Regions from separate parts of the Homo sapiens genome. Here region 1 is linked to region 2. The links come from fine-mapping of genetic effects on gene expression. Tissue or cell type: whole blood. Region 2 holds a variant in brackets; the other region holds the start of a gene. All regions are shown on one strand. Distances are between the middles of the regions. Region 1 holds the start of RNF182 (ring finger protein 182). Region 2 overlaps RNF182 (ring finger protein 182).

The links. PIP is the estimated chance that this variant, and not a neighbour inherited with it, causes the effect.
Region 1: it holds the start of RNF182, and the variant in region 2 is fine-mapped to the expression of RNF182 in whole blood (TOPMed, PIP above 0.99).

Annotation. Positions count from the first base shown.
Region 1 is chr6:13,922,451-13,927,839 of GRCh38, reverse strand. RNF182 (ring finger protein 182) reads right to left here and starts at 2,888. Exons shown (of 3, transcript NM_152737.4): 1 at 2,817-2,888. RefSeq lists an enhancer at 3,493-3,993.
Region 2 is chr6:13,946,393-13,951,781 of GRCh38, reverse strand. All of the region lies in intron 1 of RNF182 (ring finger protein 182), which reads right to left. It also overlaps the pseudogene MRPL35P1. Among named protein-coding and RNA genes, the nearest start is that of RNF182, 24 kb to the right of the region's middle. The variant T/C (reference allele first, on the strand shown) is at 2,718.

The sequences.
Region 1 (5,389 bases), 24 kb after region 2:
CATCCTTCACAAATGTGCTTTTATAAATGCTACAACACATTGCACTAGATGCTAAATTACCAACCAGTAATCATGTTATCACAGTGCAACTAGAAATTGCAAGAGAATGTTGACCCAGAAACAGTCAATAAAGGCTTCAGTGGCTTTATTTAGGCTGCCTATGCAGGCTTATATGGTTACAAACAACTGACTTTCAATGGCACAAACATAATGTTAATCCTAACTTAAACAGGAACATTTGTGGCTTTTTTTTGTCTTTGGATATGCTTCATAAACTGAATTACAGAATTCTTTCAGGTAGAATACAGCTATGGTGACAATTATCAGGCCATATTTTACAGCTTATACCAAAAATTAGGACCAATTTTACGTCATAAAATTAAAACCCGTAAGCTAAAATGCAGGAAAAGACTCCTACTCCCGTGAATCAGCAAGAGTGATGACTAGTATTTTACACCTGGGGATATGCAATGCTGTTGCCTGCTTCCACCAGGTGGCTAAACCATGGACAGAAAACACAATTGCTGTTTGCATTTTCTAAGGACATATTGCAGATATCATAGTATTTTTTCTTTCATTATCTGGTTATGCACATACCTCAGAACACTAGTAACACATATAAACATGCCAGATTATTGTTTTCCACTGCACTGACACAAGCTTCATTTCATGCTTCGGAGCTCTTATTAATAAGCCACTACAACCAAGCAGTGCATGCAATACATGATTGTTGATTTCTGTATACCGACTTTATTTTTTGGCAGAAAATGATGCAGCTCTGAAGAAGCCAAACTATATTGAATGTTGTGCCCGTGTGAGCTAGCAGCAAAGGCAAAGCACCGGTCCTTACTGTGCTAAATTCACCATGGATATCTCCGTTCTTCAGCACTCAGATTAAGGGCCACAACATAAATGTTTAGGCTAGAACTCACAGTGTGGGTTTCATCTGGCAGAAAGCACGGACCAAGTCCTTGAACTTGAATACTGGTTTTGCTAACAAAGATCTGAATAAAGCTGTTCTGTTGGTCCCTCAGGAAAAAAAAAAAAACACACACACACACACAAACACACAAAATAATTTATTTTTAGTACAAAACATAAAACTACATTCTCTGTCTATATAATGTGCCTAGGCTTCAATATCCTATTTGCTGTTCATGCTTAAGTGAGAAAATACTTTTCTCTCCCGTTTATCTTCTCAAAACAGATCTACTTCGTTTTAATCAATGTACGATTTTATTACCGTCATGAAAGAGTATTTAGCAGAGCATCTGTGAATCTTCCACAGGTAAAATTCAGTTTAAAAACAAGCCCAATTGTGAAATAACCTGCAAACTGTTAATTGCAACTTCAATCCTTTAGTTTCCAATACAATCTTCTAATGAAGTGGCATTACTTGAAGTTGCTGGCAAATATGAACAGACTGAGAAACCTAGTAATCAGCAGGCTAACAGGTGTTGAAATCCCAAAAGAGGGAAGAGGAATATTAAATAATCACTCTTTGCCTGACACCTCAAGTAGCTGTAATATGCAGAATTCCAATCAACTTAACTGCAATTCAAAATGATCAGTGGTACTGTTTTCATTAATTACTCTCTAGCAAAAATATAATTTCTTGCATTCCATATAGTTCTTTAAATGACCTATTCCAACTTATACATTATTTTACTAAGTTGGATATACAATTTTATATGTTAGATTATTTTCCAGTTATCAATATGACATCTCATATTGTTTAAATATGATTTAAAACAAATCTTATTAACATATATACAATTTCCTTCTGAATTGATCAACTGTATTTCTGAAAATGTATCTGTTTTCTTTCATATTACTACATGTAAGATGATGTCTAAGTACCAAAAAAAAAAGTCTTCACAGTCACAATTTAAATCTGTGCTTCGCGTCTGCAACAAACTATCACGAAATGATTGCAAGGGTTGGGGCCACTGAGAAAGGTACCTATAACCTATCCAGTGCCCCAGTGGCAACCGCATCGTGGTCCTCATCATCCCACTCATAAACACCGATGCAAACACCGCCCAGCTACCTGCCTCCAGAGGTGCTTTGGATTGCCTCCCTACACATAAAAACAAAAGGCACTTTCCAGTTCCTTACAGCATGAACACAATACCTTCTAGAAACAAAAGCAATGACCTCGGTGCCAAGTATCTCCTTGACAAAGTATCGGTACTGCTCTACATTCTGGTCTTGCTAGTCGGGGAAAGCCGGGCTACCCTTACCATCCAGTTATAGGTGCAACTGCACCTTCCAAAGAAAAAAAGGTCTTTCGATTCAATATCCAAACGAACTTCAGAAGCCTCCTCAAAATGCTTCAGCCACAGGCATAAAAATGGGCTCACTTTTCAGAGATTCGTAAAAATCTTTCGCTTGTCCCTCTTACTACCCTCCCAACCCCTCCTCAAAGAGAATGCCATGAAACATGAAAGTCCAAAGGTAAATACTTTCATACCTTTTTTTCCCCCAAAAGCCTCGATGGCACGCCAAGAAGGAAAATAACAACAACAACAGAGGGGCAGCTCCCTGAGCAGGTGCAGCCCGCGCGGGCGCTCCGCAGCCGCCCTCCGCCGCACAGCCCCTCAAGTTGGTGCCAGGACGGCGGCCCCCGTGGTGCCCGGAGGGAGACTCCGCGCGCGGGCCCCGGCGCCGCTCGGCCCGAAGTTTGCCGCCCCCTCTCCTCGGCGCGCTTGGGCGGCCCGGCGCCGTCCAGGACTGCGGGGCTGGCTGCTGCCCCAGCGTTGGGGAGGCCCGGCGTCCCGCCGACCCCTCCCCGGCCGCGGGCGCGATCGCCTTACCTGGCCGGCGGCGGCCCAGGGCCCGGGAGCCGCTCCGGCTGCGGCGGCGCCTGGGAGGGGAGGGAGGTTCCCGTGGAGGAGGAGCTCGCGCGAGGAGCTAGCGGGCTGGCGGGCGGGCGGCTTTGTCTCTACGGCGCTGAGCCGCCGACCCTGCGTCACCATGGCAACCGCCGGGGCCCCCCCGGCCCTTCCCCTCAGCAGTCCGGGTATTCGGAGAGGACAAGGACCCCCGATGGGCCGCCACCACCACAAACACGCCCCTCTCTCAGTCTCCCTCACAAACCGCCTGTTTCTCCCCAGCGAGAGGGGAAGGCTAAAGCGGAGCGAGCCCAGGGCCAAGTGGTATTCGCATCCTAGTAGGCACTCCTTTGCTTCCCCACACTGGACATTCCAACTCCCGTCGCACCACCATCCCCCCCACAGACACCCTCCACCACTACCACCACCACACCTTTCTCCTGTGGAGCTGTACCCTCAAAATGGAAATTCACTTAAGGGAGGAGAAAGAGCAATGCAAAGTGATAAAGTGTTGAGCAACTGGTACTCGGTTCTCCTGTTGCAACTGCCGCAGCATGCACGGAGCTGCCAAGGGACGCCGTGCCGCCTCCTCCCTCTCCCCCTCCTCCTCCTCTCTCTTTTAGCAAGCTTTGCCTCTGCTGGATGTGGTCTCACTCCACCCAACCCGTGTATCTGTCTTGTTGAGGGCTCCCGTAGGAGAGAGGGGAAAGGGGGCTTTATCTCTGATGTAAACACTGGATACACTTGTAACCTCAGAAGCTGAAACACAACTTTCAGGCTGCAGTATGGATCTCAGCTGCTGCCACACTGCGCAGCTACTGGCTGTGACCGCTAAGCATCTACCATGAGCCCTGAGTGACTCTGTGCCAAGGACTGGTCACGTACTGCAGGCCATGGCACTCAGGAGCAGAGAAAAGAAAGCTAACTTTTTCCTCTCCTGAGGAAATTCTTAGAGAGGGAGAGAAAAGTACCAGCAGACCCTTGGTCATGCTTCCTCTAAAGGACGAACTAGAGGGCAGCCTCCATGGGGGGAGTGAGTCATCCCTCCATACTGTTTTCTTGAAAGATCCGTTGCTGAATCCAAAAGCTACAGTGTCTTTCTTCAAACCCTGGGGAACATGACATTTATTTTTTGGCATTTGTGAATCACCAAAGGAATGTCAATGATTTATAATAAAATCCACGGTAGCTGATGTTTTCTGGGTTTACTACTTGAGAAGCCACAAAGCAGAACAATGTTATTGCCATTTGAAGGTACACCTATATTAACTAATGAAAAGATAAGATCTATTTCATGGTGGAAAAGGAAAACAGTTTGTTCCTCGGAGAGACTGGCCACTTTCTTGTAATGGGAATATTCTGAATGAAGTCAATAATATTCCAGATGAAGTCAAAAGACAAGGTCTTTTTGGCAGGCCATTAAGCATTTGGCAATACCTGCCAGAATTCAAAATGCACATACATTTCTCCCAGCTATCTCAATTCTAGAGATCTGTCATACAGAAACACACAAATGTGTAATGATAGATATAAAAGGATATGCATTGCAGAAGTTTTGTAATAGTAAATGTTTGAAACAACTTATATGCCCATCAATAGTGATATGGTTAAATAATGTGGCACTTCATACCATGTAATACTATGCATCCATTAATAAGAATAAAATATATAAAATTCATAGATATTGATTTCTTATTAAATGGAAAAGGGGGGCTCAGAACCGTATGTGTGGGTGATCCCATTCTGTACAAAAAAACTGGATATATAGGAACAGAACAAAAACATAGGGATAAAGGTCTATAAGAATGCCTACCTAATTGCTAGAAGTGGTAACCTGTTAACTACAAAAAAAATTGAAGGGACAGTTACCTCTTACGATGTACAATTTAGTACACATATTTGGTTTGTTTGGCTTTTTCAAATGAGCATTTATTAGTAATTTATCAATGAAGAAGCAAAAACAAAAAGCTTTAATAAATGTTTGTTGACCTGCATGCACATTACTGCCTGATCAAAAACTGAATACAGAACAGGGAGGGACCATTGACTTGGCCATCCCTGCCCTCAGCTGAAGGCTTGGAAAAGTCCACGTTGTGTCCCCACTTAGAGCATTGCTTAGTGACCTGGTCCTGCGTTATTCTGTGAGACATTCTTCCAGACATTCATTTTTCCAAAAGAGGTTTAGCTTTATCTTAAGGTCTGCTTCCATTCTGCCTCTTGGAGAAAATTAAAAGACTTGTCAGGAAACCATCTTAAAATGTGCCACCTTACTTACCAGGGGATATCATTTGAATAGGTTAAGTGGCAGCTTTTAGTCTGTTTAGCTAAACTGAAACTGAAGATACTAAAGCTTAAAAATTAATGTGTGGATACATGACTAGTCTTTCTTATTCTCACCATTTTTGAAATGAGGTTAAAATAATGAATTTGCTTTCCTAAAAAGATCTAGAGCTGCACAGTCTAATTCAGTAACTGCTAGCCACATATGAATTAGCTACTGAATTGGTATGTTCAGTAAGTGCAAAATACACACCAGATTTCAAAGACTTGGAACA
Region 2 (5,389 bases):
AGATGATTTTCTTTTATAATGTGGCTTGGACCCCACAGCTATGGGGCAACAAGCAAGACTATCAGAGCCACTCAGAGAAAGGTAACCCAGAAACCTGGCATGCTGGCAAAAAGGTAGGAATTTCCTACCAGTCAGGCTTCTGGCCTGTCTGTGAAAACTGGTTAAATGAATGGTCAAAATCACTTGCATTATGAGAGCTTTTAGCCTTGGTGTGTAATAACTAGGTAGGACATATACTTTTAGGGACAGCTAATGGCAGCTATGAGGGAGGAATACTCTGCTCTTGGCACACTGGGATCAGAGAAGCATGTTCTTGACCACCTGGAAGGTACGGAAATGTCCCCACCCCAACTGAGAGATAAGACTCCCATAGGGGATGGGCTAATTCTCTCTTTTTGGGGATCAAGGATCCAGTATAAAAATGGGGCTCTTAATTTTGGAGGATCTGTTTTGCCTTCCAACCATGCCTGCTTATTAGGCCCTAGAAACTGCATGCTTTCCTGACCCTGTTCCTTGAAGGTCTTCTGCCTGAAGCCAGTAATCCAGTTAAGAAACTTAAAACTGGCAAATAAAAAATATTATAACTATTAGATCTTCTTCCATCTCTCCGTGTATTTATATGTGTTGTGTGTGTGATGTTTACATATGAAAGAGCTCTGGTTAACTGACTTAAAGAAAAATAAGTGGCTGGGCACAATGGCTCACACCTGTAATCTCAGCACTTTGGAAGGCTGAGGTGGGCAGATCACCTGAGGCCAGGTGTTCAAGACCAGCCTGGCCAACATGGTGACACCCCGTCTCTACTAAATATACAAAAGTTAGCCAGGTGTGGTGGCACACGACTGTAGTCCCAGCTACTCAGGAGGCTGAGGCAGGAGAATCACTTGAACCCAAGAGCCAGAGATTGCAGTGAGCTGAGATTGCATCACTGCACTCCAGCCTAGGTGACAGAACAAGACTCTATCTCAAAAAAAATAAAGGGGGAGTGCAGGTGTGGTGGCTCATGCCTGTAATCTCAGCACTTTGGGAAGCCAAGGCAGGCAGATTACCTGAGATCAGGAGTTCAAGACCAGCCTGGCCAACATGGTGAAGCCCCATCTCTACTAAAAATACAAAAATTAGCCATGTGTGGTGGTGTGTGCCTGTAATCCCAGGTACTCGGGAGGTTGAGGCACGAGAATTGTTGAACCCGGGAGATGGAGGTTGCAGGGAGCCAAGATTGTGTTATCACACTCCAACGTGGGAGACAGAGCAGGACTCTGTCAAAAAAAAAAAAAAAAAAAGTACCTGTTTTGTCAGAAAAATAAAAACTTTAATGTCATTTAGTTCACATGACTTTTAGACATTTAGTCTAAATTAGGCAAGCTGAATACTGTCCTTGGTAAATGTGTTAAGGTCATAAACTGCTTCTATGACATTTTTTATAATTATTTGACTTGTCTGCTTTACAGCGAATTCCAGGTAAGGCCTTGAGATGTATGGAATTAGCCTGGTCCCCTGACTAGGCTGGGAAGGTCAGACTTTACAGCTCTGTCCTTGTCTTGGGCTCTACAATCTGATACAAGGTTAAAATCGCTCACTCACCAAGTTTTTCACCAAAAATAAAAGTTGCTACGAGTTAACATTGTAACATATGTAATTGAGACTATTGGAGCAAGGTATGTAAGAAAAGTAGAATGTATTTTTTGTAAAAGCTTATAAAAAGACATGGGAATGTGAGAAGTTTCTTGCCTAGTTCAGAGGGCTGAATAATTATTTTAAGTTAGATAGAATAAAGCTAAAAATTTGAGCAAATGGTGGAAAGTTTGTGAAAAATTAATCTTGTAAAAGAAATTCTGTGTGTGAACAAATTGACTAAAATTAAGAGGGTATTGTTTAGTTTTTCCATAAATTGAATACTGGAAAAATGCACAACAGGGTTTTCTTAGAGCACTGATCTACTCTTCAGCAAAATTTTTTTTAAGTTTTAAAACTTTTATAAGTTTAACGTTGGCACTGTATGTTTACCTATTCGTTGGTACAATTTACATCAAGTTTTATACTTACCCATTTTTGTGAAGATATCGTACACAAAGATACATATTCAATAACTGAGAAACAAGTAAAACTTCTGATCTATACTTTCAGGTTTGTTCGATCATGATAACTTCTGATAAGAATCATCGTCATATCAGTTTTTCACCTCTTCCAGAAGGACATCATCATTTTATCTAAGAGTTCACTCTGGGTTTTACTGCAGAACACAGATTCCCTCAATTGCTTTTTTCTTGCAAGTGTCTTTTTCCGTAATTTTTTCTTATAACCAGCCTTTCTCGTCAACCAAAGGCCAGAATGAAGTCAAAGAAACCTATAGATGACAGCTTTCACAGTCTTTCTCTTGCCTTTTTGTGTACAAATGAATGTTAGAGATCTGACTGGCAGCTTCAGGACACTTGGAAGCAAGGGGGCCACTCTATTAAAGATTACCGCAGGATGCCCACATGTCAGGTTTCTGACAGATGTGGTAAGTCTGGGAGCAGAGGAAACAACTGGTGTCTGAATATGACTAAAACGTCCAGTGGACAATGCAGAAATAAGAGAGGCATTCTTGACACACAGTTTTGGTAGGCTGAAGATGCCAAAATATTCAGGGGCTATAAGATTCCTGAAGCTGCTCTCACTGCACTGGCAAAGGCAGTGGCAGCCATCTTGCCATCAACAAAAAATTTAAAGGGTTA[T/C]AAAAGGTTTGTGAAAATCTTACTTTATGGTCAAACTGATTAGGAGTGAGTAGATTTTGTCCGTATGATTTTATTAAAAATTGGATTTGACATTAATAGTACATTAATGCAAAAGTGAAATTTGGCTTTCTCTTTTGAACAAGATTTTCATGTAATATTAAAAGATAAAAGATTTTTGTTTGTCTTTTGAATAAACTAAAGAAAAAAAAAGAAAGGAGAGAAAAGAGACATTATTTGGAAAGCTAACTCTTCCCTCTATCAATGGGTAAAGGTTTTTGCCTTTTTAAAATCTTTAAGTTGTCATTTTGGCTAAATAAATGACTTACAGTGACCTGAGATTCTATTTTATAACATAAAGTGTTTTACACCTTTGCTATTTAACAAACATTCCCAAATCAAACTAGGACTTAAGTAGGACCTAAAGACTTAATAAGTCTTTCCTGACTTGATAATCCTTTTAGATATTAGGTCCCCTGAAGTCCAATAATGGCATATTTGACTTATTTGACATACTAAAATCATACAGGAAGTACTGTCAAATACAAAATGGCATCTGACATTTTTTGGGTTATTTAAATGTGTTATTGGTATGTGTTCCAAAATTATGCAAAACTACTATAATTCTGGTATAACTTAGTATATGTTATCATTAATAGTTATAATTGTTATCTTAAATTATTGTGTGCCACAAGGGGCCAAATTTCCTTGTCAATTGTGTCTCTGACTGTAGCTGCCCTAAGACTTTTTGTCATCTACAAGCAATTGTCTTGTTTTGATTCTCTTCAAAAGGCAGTTTATAATCAGTTATAGGACTCTGACAAGTACTCTTATAAAGCAGGACTTTCACAGCTTTGAAATGTATGCCATTAAAACGAAGAAAAACTTCCAAGACTCTTGGAAAACTAATGTATTCATAAATATTGAGAAAAACAGGAATTGCATAGACAACTAATAGAAGACCAAAATAATCTATTCATGACTTTTTGCCTTTGTTTTGTTTTTCAGAGTCAAGAAAACTTTTATTTTGAGCTATTTACAGCTTTCAACAATTGAGTATAATATACTACTGTAAACAAAATTTAGAGCACATTTCTTTCTCTCTACCTGATTTCTCCCAAATTTGGAAACTATTTGTGAGTATTTTTAACTTATGGTGATATAGCTATTTACATAAGTCCAGTAAGAATTTTTCCTTTGTGACAAGACACAATTGGAGACACTGGTTATTTTACCAAGGCTTTGACTGGAATGACTGACATGCTTTCAAATGTAAACAAACTGGTTTAAGGAATCAAAATTCATTTATAGAGCCAATTAAAGCCCCTAAGAAAACTGACCTCATATCTTGAGCCTTGTACAGGGCTCCTGACCTGTAGCAAGTAAAGAATGTCACTTTCTGACAGGCCCAGGAGCCCCAAATATCTTGGGACATCCAGAGGAGAGAAACTTATCCAACTCATATTTGCAGACACACATAAATCCATGACTGGTCTCAAGGCTTTAAAAAGTCTAATCTAAGATTAGATTATAGAACACAGTTCCATCAAAGCCAAAAGAGCCTATATGGCAAATAATTATTCTTGCTTCACTTTATACAAATAACCAGGCCACATACAATAAGACTAAAATTTATTTTGCCAACAAATCAGTCCACATACAATAAGACTAAAATTTATTTTGCCAACAAATCAGTCCTACCATGGTTTGTTTAAATAAAAATAGGGACTGGAGAGAGAAAAATTATGTTTCACAAACTATGGTACACCTGTTACCAGACTCTAGTCTCATCCATTGTTTTTGAGTTTTTTCTGCAATTTAGACTGACCCTGCTTATTCCTGTGAACCAACCAGTGATCTCTGGCTGCTGCTCAAAAGAAACATGAGGCATGATTAACATAAAAATCTGAATCACTATTCTAATTCTGGACACATAATGAAATCAGCTAGCGACCCCATATCAGCTTGGTTCCCACAATTGCCCAGTTCATAGAAAGCTCTTATTTAATTTTAGACAATTTTACTGATTTCGCTTTACAGTTGTAGAATATATTGCTGTTGTACTCTTTGTATATAATTCAGGATAAGCTTACTCAATGTTTTCTTAAATACTTACTAATCTTCCAGGTATCATCTTTCATCAGGACTCAGAGTTTTGAATGACCTTCACCATACTAACACTTTATGACTAAACTCCTCCCAACTCTAAATACAAGAGACCCTAAAAATTGTTAGGCAGGAATATCATTGCCCCTGTTCAGCCTGAAGAAGCTACAGAAGATAAATTTCTATCCCTCTGCAACCTTCAGGATTAAGGGTCCCCTTATAAATGGGAGGGGGGAAATGTGTCAGAGGCATTCAAACCAGAGTGACTCCATCTTGAATTAGGGCTGGGTAAAATGAGGCTGAGACCTACTGTGCTGGATTCCCAGGAGGCTAGACATTTTTAGTCATAGGATATTTACAGTTAAGGGAAGAAGTTAATAATGTTTACTGAACAGACCCAGGACTTAACAAACCCAGGAAATAACAGACCCAGGAAATGTCCTGATGTCCTGATATCTTATGAACAAAAGCATTCTTAGTTTAAGAATAAGTTTTGCAGTCAGGTACGGTGGCTCATGCCTGTAATCCCAACACTTTGGGAGGCCAAGGCGGGTGGATCACCTGAGGTC